Homo sapiens: one gene and its partner. The protein of the gene in region 1 purifies or fractionates together with the protein of each later gene. This does not show direct contact. Each region holds a gene or a part of one and is shown on either strand. Other genes may lie near its edges.

The links. The genes of interacting proteins can lie anywhere in the genome.
Region 2: the proteins of PLK1 (region 1) and SPAG9 purify together in Homo sapiens (affinity purification with mass spectrometry; 8 studies listed by BioGRID and IntAct, with this or other methods). This does not show direct contact.

What each region holds. Positions count from the first base shown.
Region 1 is NC_000016.10:23,685,206-23,689,052, reverse strand, and holds part of PLK1 (serine/threonine-protein kinase PLK1), read right to left. Parts: intron 1,585-3,847; coding exon 1,429-1,584; intron 386-1,428; coding exon 308-385; intron 1-307. UniProt on the Homo sapiens protein: Serine/threonine-protein kinase that performs several important functions throughout M phase of the cell cycle, including the regulation of centrosome maturation and spindle assembly, the removal of cohesins from chromosome arms, the inactivation of anaphase-promoting complex/cyclosome (APC/C) inhibitors, and the regulation of mitotic exit and cytokinesis.
Region 2 is NC_000017.11:50,991,869-50,995,368, forward strand, and holds part of SPAG9 (C-Jun-amino-terminal kinase-interacting protein 4), read right to left. Parts: intron 3,357-3,500; coding exon 3,189-3,356; intron 2,068-3,188; coding exon 1,896-2,067; intron 1-1,895. UniProt on the Homo sapiens protein: The JNK-interacting protein (JIP) group of scaffold proteins selectively mediates JNK signaling by aggregating specific components of the MAPK cascade to form a functional JNK signaling module.

The sequences.
Region 1 (3,847 bases):
AAATTAGCTGAGCATAATGGTGCACGCCTGTAGTCACAGCTACTTAGGGGCCTGGGAGTTTGAGGCTGCAGTGAGCCATGATTGTGCCACTGCACTCCAGCCTGGGCTACAGAGCAGGACCCTGTCTCTGGAAAAAAAAAAAGCTGGGGAGTCAGGGAGCACTGGGAGCTGGAACTGGGAGGCCTGGGATGGAGAGAGGAGGGCACTGAGAACAGTACCTGGGAGCTCAAAAAGGCCAGAGTCTGTAACAACTGAAAAGGTCACCTGGCTGTGCCTGAGTCACCCACCTGTTCTGGAAGAAACCTACCAAGGCCGTACTTGTCCGAATAGTCCACCCACTTGCTGACCCAGAAGATGGGGATGCAGGCAGGATCCTCAGCCTCCTCTGAGACAGAAACAGACAGACAGTTAGTTGGTCAGGACCAGCCTCTTCCCCTCTGCTCCACACATGTGGCCCACACCAGGGAACAGGGAAGCCTGCTGGGCACCCCACCTGGGCTCAGTTGAGAGGCCTAGGGCCCCAGAGAAGAGCAAAGCAGGGCCTCTGCTGCCAGCAGGCTCAGACAAGCAGCAGCACAGATATCTCTGCAGAGAAAGTCTCAGCACAGCGCACCAAGTTCCACTCACTCCTTCATTCCACTGACCCATTTACTGAAGGCCTACCGTGCCAGGCACTGTTGCAGGTTCAGTGAGCAACAGACAAAACCCCAGCCTCCACGGAGCTTACACTGTGGTTGTAGGGGCAAAGACTAATCAATTTAAGTATGGGCAAAATATCAGTGACTTCTATCATGGTAAGAGTCAGAGGCATCTAGTTTTCCAGTTTGGAGTAATTAAGAAACTGTGAAGACAGAAGCCAGTTGCAAACACATCAAAATGTTACGTTCAGTGCATGCAACAAACCCCTTAATTTAAATCCAATAAACAAAGAAGGACATGTTGGACTATGTTGGGTGAGAAGTGTTATGGAGAACTATGCAGTGGGCAAGAGGATGAGAAGCACCAGCAGAGGGGCCAGGGAGATGCTCACAGAGCTGACACTGGAGCAGACACTTGAAGGAGGCCACAGTGTGAGCCATGTGGTGTCTGGAAGAAGTGCTTTCGTGCCAGGACCAGGGAGAAAGCCCTGAGGCTGCAGTACATCTGGGTCTGTTATTTCAAGGGTCTTGAAGATACAATAGGAACTTACTGAGCAAAAGAAACAGCGTATGAAGGTGGCACATCGAGGTGCTAGAGTAAAAAAGACGGATCAGAAAAGGCGGCAGGAGCCACGGAAGCAGGGCCTTGGATATCAGGAAATGGGGAAACCAATGGTCCTATGCAGACAGGGCCTGAACAAGTCACCAGTGCTTTGTTGGCCAAGCCTCCTCCTGCCTTTTCCAGATGCCCCAAGCAATCCTGCCCCGCCCAGGGCCCCGCAGTACCCACCTTGCCTGACCAGCCCACGCTCCGAGGGCTTGGAGGCATTGACACTGTGCAGCTGCTGCAGCATGTCACTGAGGTGGCAGTCGACCACCTCACCTGTCTCTCGAACCACTGGTTCTTCTTTTTCCCGGGGACGCTCAGGCAGGGGGTTCTCCAAGCCTAGGAAGGTGACAAAAACAGGGGCGTTGGGAAGGGCACGGGACTCCCCTGCCACAGCTGAAACTCTTCCGAAAGAAAAATTCTCTTAGCTACCACTGCTTTGGGGAAACTGAATCAGTGCCTGGTTACTAGAGCAGCAGCTGCCATGCTCAGGTGACAGGCACATAGTGCTCACTGTGAGGCAACAGATCTTCAGAAGCCGTGGCCTCTGACCCAACGGTGTGGCCCTGCAGGATGACCTGCCACTCAGGCAAACAGCTTGAAGGCACCAGCAGCTCAGAGCTGCCCAGCTTTGAGCAAAGAATGGAAAGCATCTTCAGCATCCAGGCAGATGGAAGGGCTGAGTAGTTCAGTTCATCCACAGAATGGATTCAGTAGGCATTTAAATAAAAACACAAGAAATTTTTTTCCACCCCAAAATTTGCTTTATATGCTTATTTATAACCAAAAAAGCTTGAAAAGATAACATGAAATTTTAACGCTGATTATATCTGGGCAGTAGAAACACAGATTATTCTTATTGTCTTTTTCCTTATTTATTTATTCCCCCACCACCATGTGCTAATTCTCCTTGTATAATATAAAATGTTTAAGTTTTCAATTAAAAAACGATGTCATGATAGGGACTTGGGTATGAAATAATAAGATATTAGGGATTTGCTTTAAACACTCCAGCAAGGCCAGGCCCAGTGGCTCACACTTGTAATCCCAACACTATGAGAGACCGAGGCAGGTAGATTGTTTGAGCTCAGGAGTTTGAGACCAGCCTGAGCAACATGGCAAAACCCTGTCTTTACTAAAAATACAGAAACTAGCTGGACATGGTGGCACACCTGTAGTCCTAGCTACTTGGGAGGCTGAGGTGGGAGAGTCACTTGAACGCAGGAGGTGGAGGCTGCAGTGAGCCATGATCTTGCCACAGCACTCCAGCCTGGGCAACAAAGCAAGAATGTCTCAAATAAATAATAATAAATAGTAAATAATAATTTTTTAAAACACCGGTAACAAAAAAGGCAGGAGGCTGGAATAAATAAAACAGTCTGTCCAAATGTTGATAACTAGTAAAAATAGATGAAACATGGGACTCATCATACAGTTCTCTCCACCTTCGGGTAACTGAAAATTTCCTTAAGTTTTTAAAATGCTATATAAAAAATTAAAACTGAAAGAAAAAAAGTAGGAGTCTGAGGCAGGAGGATCACTTGAGCTCAGGAGTTTGAGACCAGTGTGGGCAAGACCTCATCTCTACCAAAAATTTAAAAATTGGTCAGACGCGGTGGCACATGCCTAAAGTCTCAACTACTTGGGAGGCTGAGGCTGGAGGATCACTTGAGCCCAGGAGATCAAAGCTACTGTGAGGTACGACTGTGCCACTGCACTCCAGCCCGGGAGACAGAGCAAGACCCTGTCTCAAATTTAAAAAAATAAATAAAAGCAGAGAAATAAGTAATCCTTTAAAATATAGCCCAAAGAATAAAAATATCCATGAGTCTATTTCAGACATAACCAAATAAATAAATCAATCGGAGAGAAGGAACAGCTCTTCCTTACAGAAGAATTCCAATTATTAAATGCAAAAAAAGTGAGGAAAAGAAAAATTACCATTAGAACATCATTCTAGGCAGGGCACAGTGGCTCACACCTGTAAATCCTAACACTTTGGGAGGCCGAGGAGGATCACTTGAGGGCAGGAGTTTGAGATAAGCCTGGTCGACATAGTGAGATCTTGTCTTTACAAAAAAAAAATTTTTTTTTTTTTTTGAGACAGAGTCTCGCTCTGTTGCCCAGGCTGGAGTGCAGTGGTGAGACCTCGGCTCACTGCAACCTCCGCCTTCCAGGTTCAAGTGATTCTTGTGCCTCAGTGTCCCGAGTAGCTGAGATTACAGGTGCACACCACCACGCCCGGCTAGTCTTTTGTATTTTTAGTAGAGACAGCGTTTCGCCATGTTGCCCAGGCTGATCTCGAACTCCTGAGCTCGGGCAATCCACCCACCTCGGCCTCCCAAAGAAAAAAATTTTTTAATTAGCTGGGTATGGTGGCACATGCCTGTAGTCCTAGCTACTCTGGAGGGTAAGGCAGGGGGACTGTTTGAGCCCAGGATGTTGGGGCTGCAGTAAGCTATGAGTGAGCCACTGCATTCCAGCCTGGGTGACAGCAAGTCCTGAGACCTGTCTCAAAAAAAATTCCACTGTAATAATTGCTGCAAGGTATGTAGGAACTCTGGGGAGTTTTTTGTTGTTGTTGCAACTTTTCTGTATAAGC
Region 2 (3,500 bases), on another chromosome or scaffold:
CCACCTCAGCCTCCCAAAGTGTCTGGATTACAGGTGTAAGCCACCATGCCAGGTCTTTTTTTTTTTTTTTTTTTTTTTTTTTTTAAAACACAGGGTCTTACTCCCATTGCCCAGGTGGGTGTGTAGTGGTGCAATCGTAGCTCACTGCAGTCTTGACCTCCCCGACTCAAGTTATCCTCCCGCCTCATTTTTTGATTTTTTGTGGAATGAGGTCTCACTATATTGCCCAGACTGGTCTCAAACTTCTGGGCTCAAGTGATCGTCCCACCTTGGCCTCTGAAAGTGCTGGGATTATGAGTGTGAACCTCCATGGCCGGCCTATTTCTAAAGCTTTTCCATCACCTCACACAGAAACTCTATGTTTTTATGAATGTGCCTATTCTAGATATCTCATATAAGCGGAATCATATAATATTTGTCCTTTTGTGTCCGACTTATTTCCTTTGGCATAGTGTTTCCAAGGTTCATCTGTGTTATAACATGTGTCAGAACTTCTACCTAGAGGATAATGTATTGTACTCTTAAAAATTTGTTAAGAGGGCTGGGCATCCCAATACTTCGGGAGGCCAAGGCAGGCAGATCACTTGAGCCCAGGAGTTCCAGACCAGCCTGGGCAACATGGTGAAACCCTGCCTACAAAAAGTACAAACAACTTAGCCAGGTGTGGTAGTGTGCGCCTGTGGTCCCAGCTACTTGGGAGGCTGAGCTGGGAGGATCACTTGAGCCCGGAAGGTCATGGCTGCAATGAGTACAATGAGTTGTGACTGCACCACTGCAATCCAGCCTGGGCAACAGAGTGAGGCCCTGTCTCAAAAAAACAAAAACAAAAATGTGTTAAGAGGGTAGATCTCAGGCTGGGTTCAGTGGCTCATGCCTGTAATCCCAGTACTTCGGGAGGACGAAGCGGGTGGATCACCTGAGGTCAGGAGTTCAAGACTAATCTGACTGCCCGGGGTGGTGGGTCACACCTGTAATCTCAGCACTTTGGGAGACCGAGGCGGGCAGATCACGAGGTCTAGGAGTTCGAGACCAACCTGGCCAATATGGTGACACCCCATTTCTACCAAAAATACAAAAATTAGCCGGGTGTAGTGGCTCGTGCCTGTAGTCCCAGCTACTTGGGAGGCTAAGGCAAAAGAATCACTTGAACCCAGGAGGTAGAGGTTGCAGTAAGCCGAGACGGTGCCACTGCACTCCAGTGTGAGTGACAGAGTAAGACTCCATCTCAAAAAAAAAAAAAAAAAAAGACTAGCCTGACCAACATGGTAAAACCCCGTCTCTAGTAAAAATGCAAACAATTAGCCGGGCGTGGTGGCAGGTGCCTGTAATTCCAGCTACTCGGGAGGCTGAGGCAGGAGAATCACTTGAACCTGGAAGGTGGAGGTTGCAGTGAGCCGAGATCATGCCATTGCACTCCAGCCTGGGTGACAGAGTAAGACTCTGTCTCAAAAAAAAAAAAAAAAAAAAAGTAGAACTCATATTAAGTATTCCACAATAAAATATAAAAAAGAACTTCATTCCTTTTTATGGCTGAATAATATTCCAACATATGGATATATCACATACACTTCTTTAATTTTTAAACTAATGTTTTAACATCACATAATGTTTAATCCAAAACTTTAGAAGACCTTTCCTTATTAATTAATCCAAACAGTCCTCTGGCTCCCAGTTATTTTCTCATATTCCCATTGTTTTATTTTCTTCACAGTATTTTTCACTACCTGAAAATATCTTCTTTATTCAATGGTTTCCAGTTTGTTTTTTAATCTTCCCTAACTAGAACATAAGCTTCATGACAGCAAGGTGCAGAACTGCATCTTCAGCTGCTACATCAGTGCCCAGCAGGTAGGTGGATGGAGGGGAGGGCAGAGAAACGCATGACTCACTCTTACCTGGCACACTTGCAATGCACAGAACATGAGAGTTGCAAACAGTGAAACTGTCTAGGATGTTGCCAGGTTGAACAGCATCAATAATAAGAACTTTTGTAGCCGAATGAGTGCTGGTACAGATCCAAACTAGACTGGATAATTCTTCTTGATTTTTTAACTCCTTCTGCTGTTCCTGTATAGGCAAAGGAGGAAAAATGTTTAAAACAATATGTATGTACAAATATTCATAAGGTGGTGCTGTTACAGTAAAAGGCAATACTATTTCAAATTTATTTCCAGATTATTTGGAAGGGTAAAAATACAACCACTGATGTGGTTTGGCTGCGTCCCTACCCAAAACTCAACTTGAATTGTATCTCCCCGAATTCCCACATGTTGTGAGAGGGACCCAGGGGGAGGTAATTTAATCATGGGGGCCAGTCTTTCCCATGCTATTCTCGTGATAGTGAATAAGTCTCACGAGATCTGATGGGTTTATTAGGGGTTTACACTTTTGCTTCTTCCTCATTTTCTCTTGCTGCCACCATGTAAGAAGTGCCTTTCATCTCCTGTCATGATTCTGAGGCCTCCCCAGAGGTTACCTATGTAAGCCCAATTAAACCTCTTTTTTCCTTCCCAGTCTCGGGTATGTGTTTATCAGCAGTGTGAATATAGACTAATACAACCACCTATCAATATTAATTAGTAGATGAAAAACTAGCAGTTAGGCTGGCACAGTGGCTCACGTCTGTAATCCCAGCACTTTGGGAGGCTGAGGTGGGAGGACTGCTTGAGGCCAGAAGTGTGAGACTAGCCTGGTCAACACAGTGAAACCCTCGTCTCTACAAAAAATAAAATTAGCCAGGTGTGGTGGTGTGGGTGTGTAGTCCCAGCTACTTGGGTGGCTGAAGTGGACAGATCACTTGAGTCCAGGAGGTTAACACTGCAGTGAGCCATGATCATGCCACTGCACTCCAGCCTATGTGATAGAGTGAGACTCTGTCTCTAAACAGCAACACAAAACTAACAGGTAAAGCAGAACAATGATAAAATGTTCCATTAGCTTGATCACTGTAGTGATTACATACGTGTACACATGTGTCAAAACTCTGACCTATACCCATTTCGAGTGCACACTTTATTGCATGTAAATTATACCTCAATATTTTAAAATTGATTTTAAAAGGGTGCTGAGGGACAGTAAGCCAGGGCATAGTAATCCCAATTAGAAGCTGGACCCAGAGGCAAATTTTGGATGAAAGAGTTAAACTCATAGTCTCATAAACCAGGTCAAATGTTAGTACACACACTTACCTTAAGTTCCTGATCTAACTTATCTAAACTACTCTGAGAGGCACTTCGCTGTTTACTGCCTTCTGTATCCAAACCAGCAACATCCTTGTAAAATACACTTGCTCCAACAACAGAACCACCATCTCTGGTCTTCCCACCAGATAAATTGACTCCAACAGCACACCACAGCTTCTCAGGTGAAAAAGAAAACAATATTAAGTCTAGAAATGTTTAGCATTTTCATGTTTTCTTAAAATAACTAATGGTTGTAAATACAGGTCTTATAACCTAATATTATAAAATGAACAATAACCTCACCATAGAAGTAATACT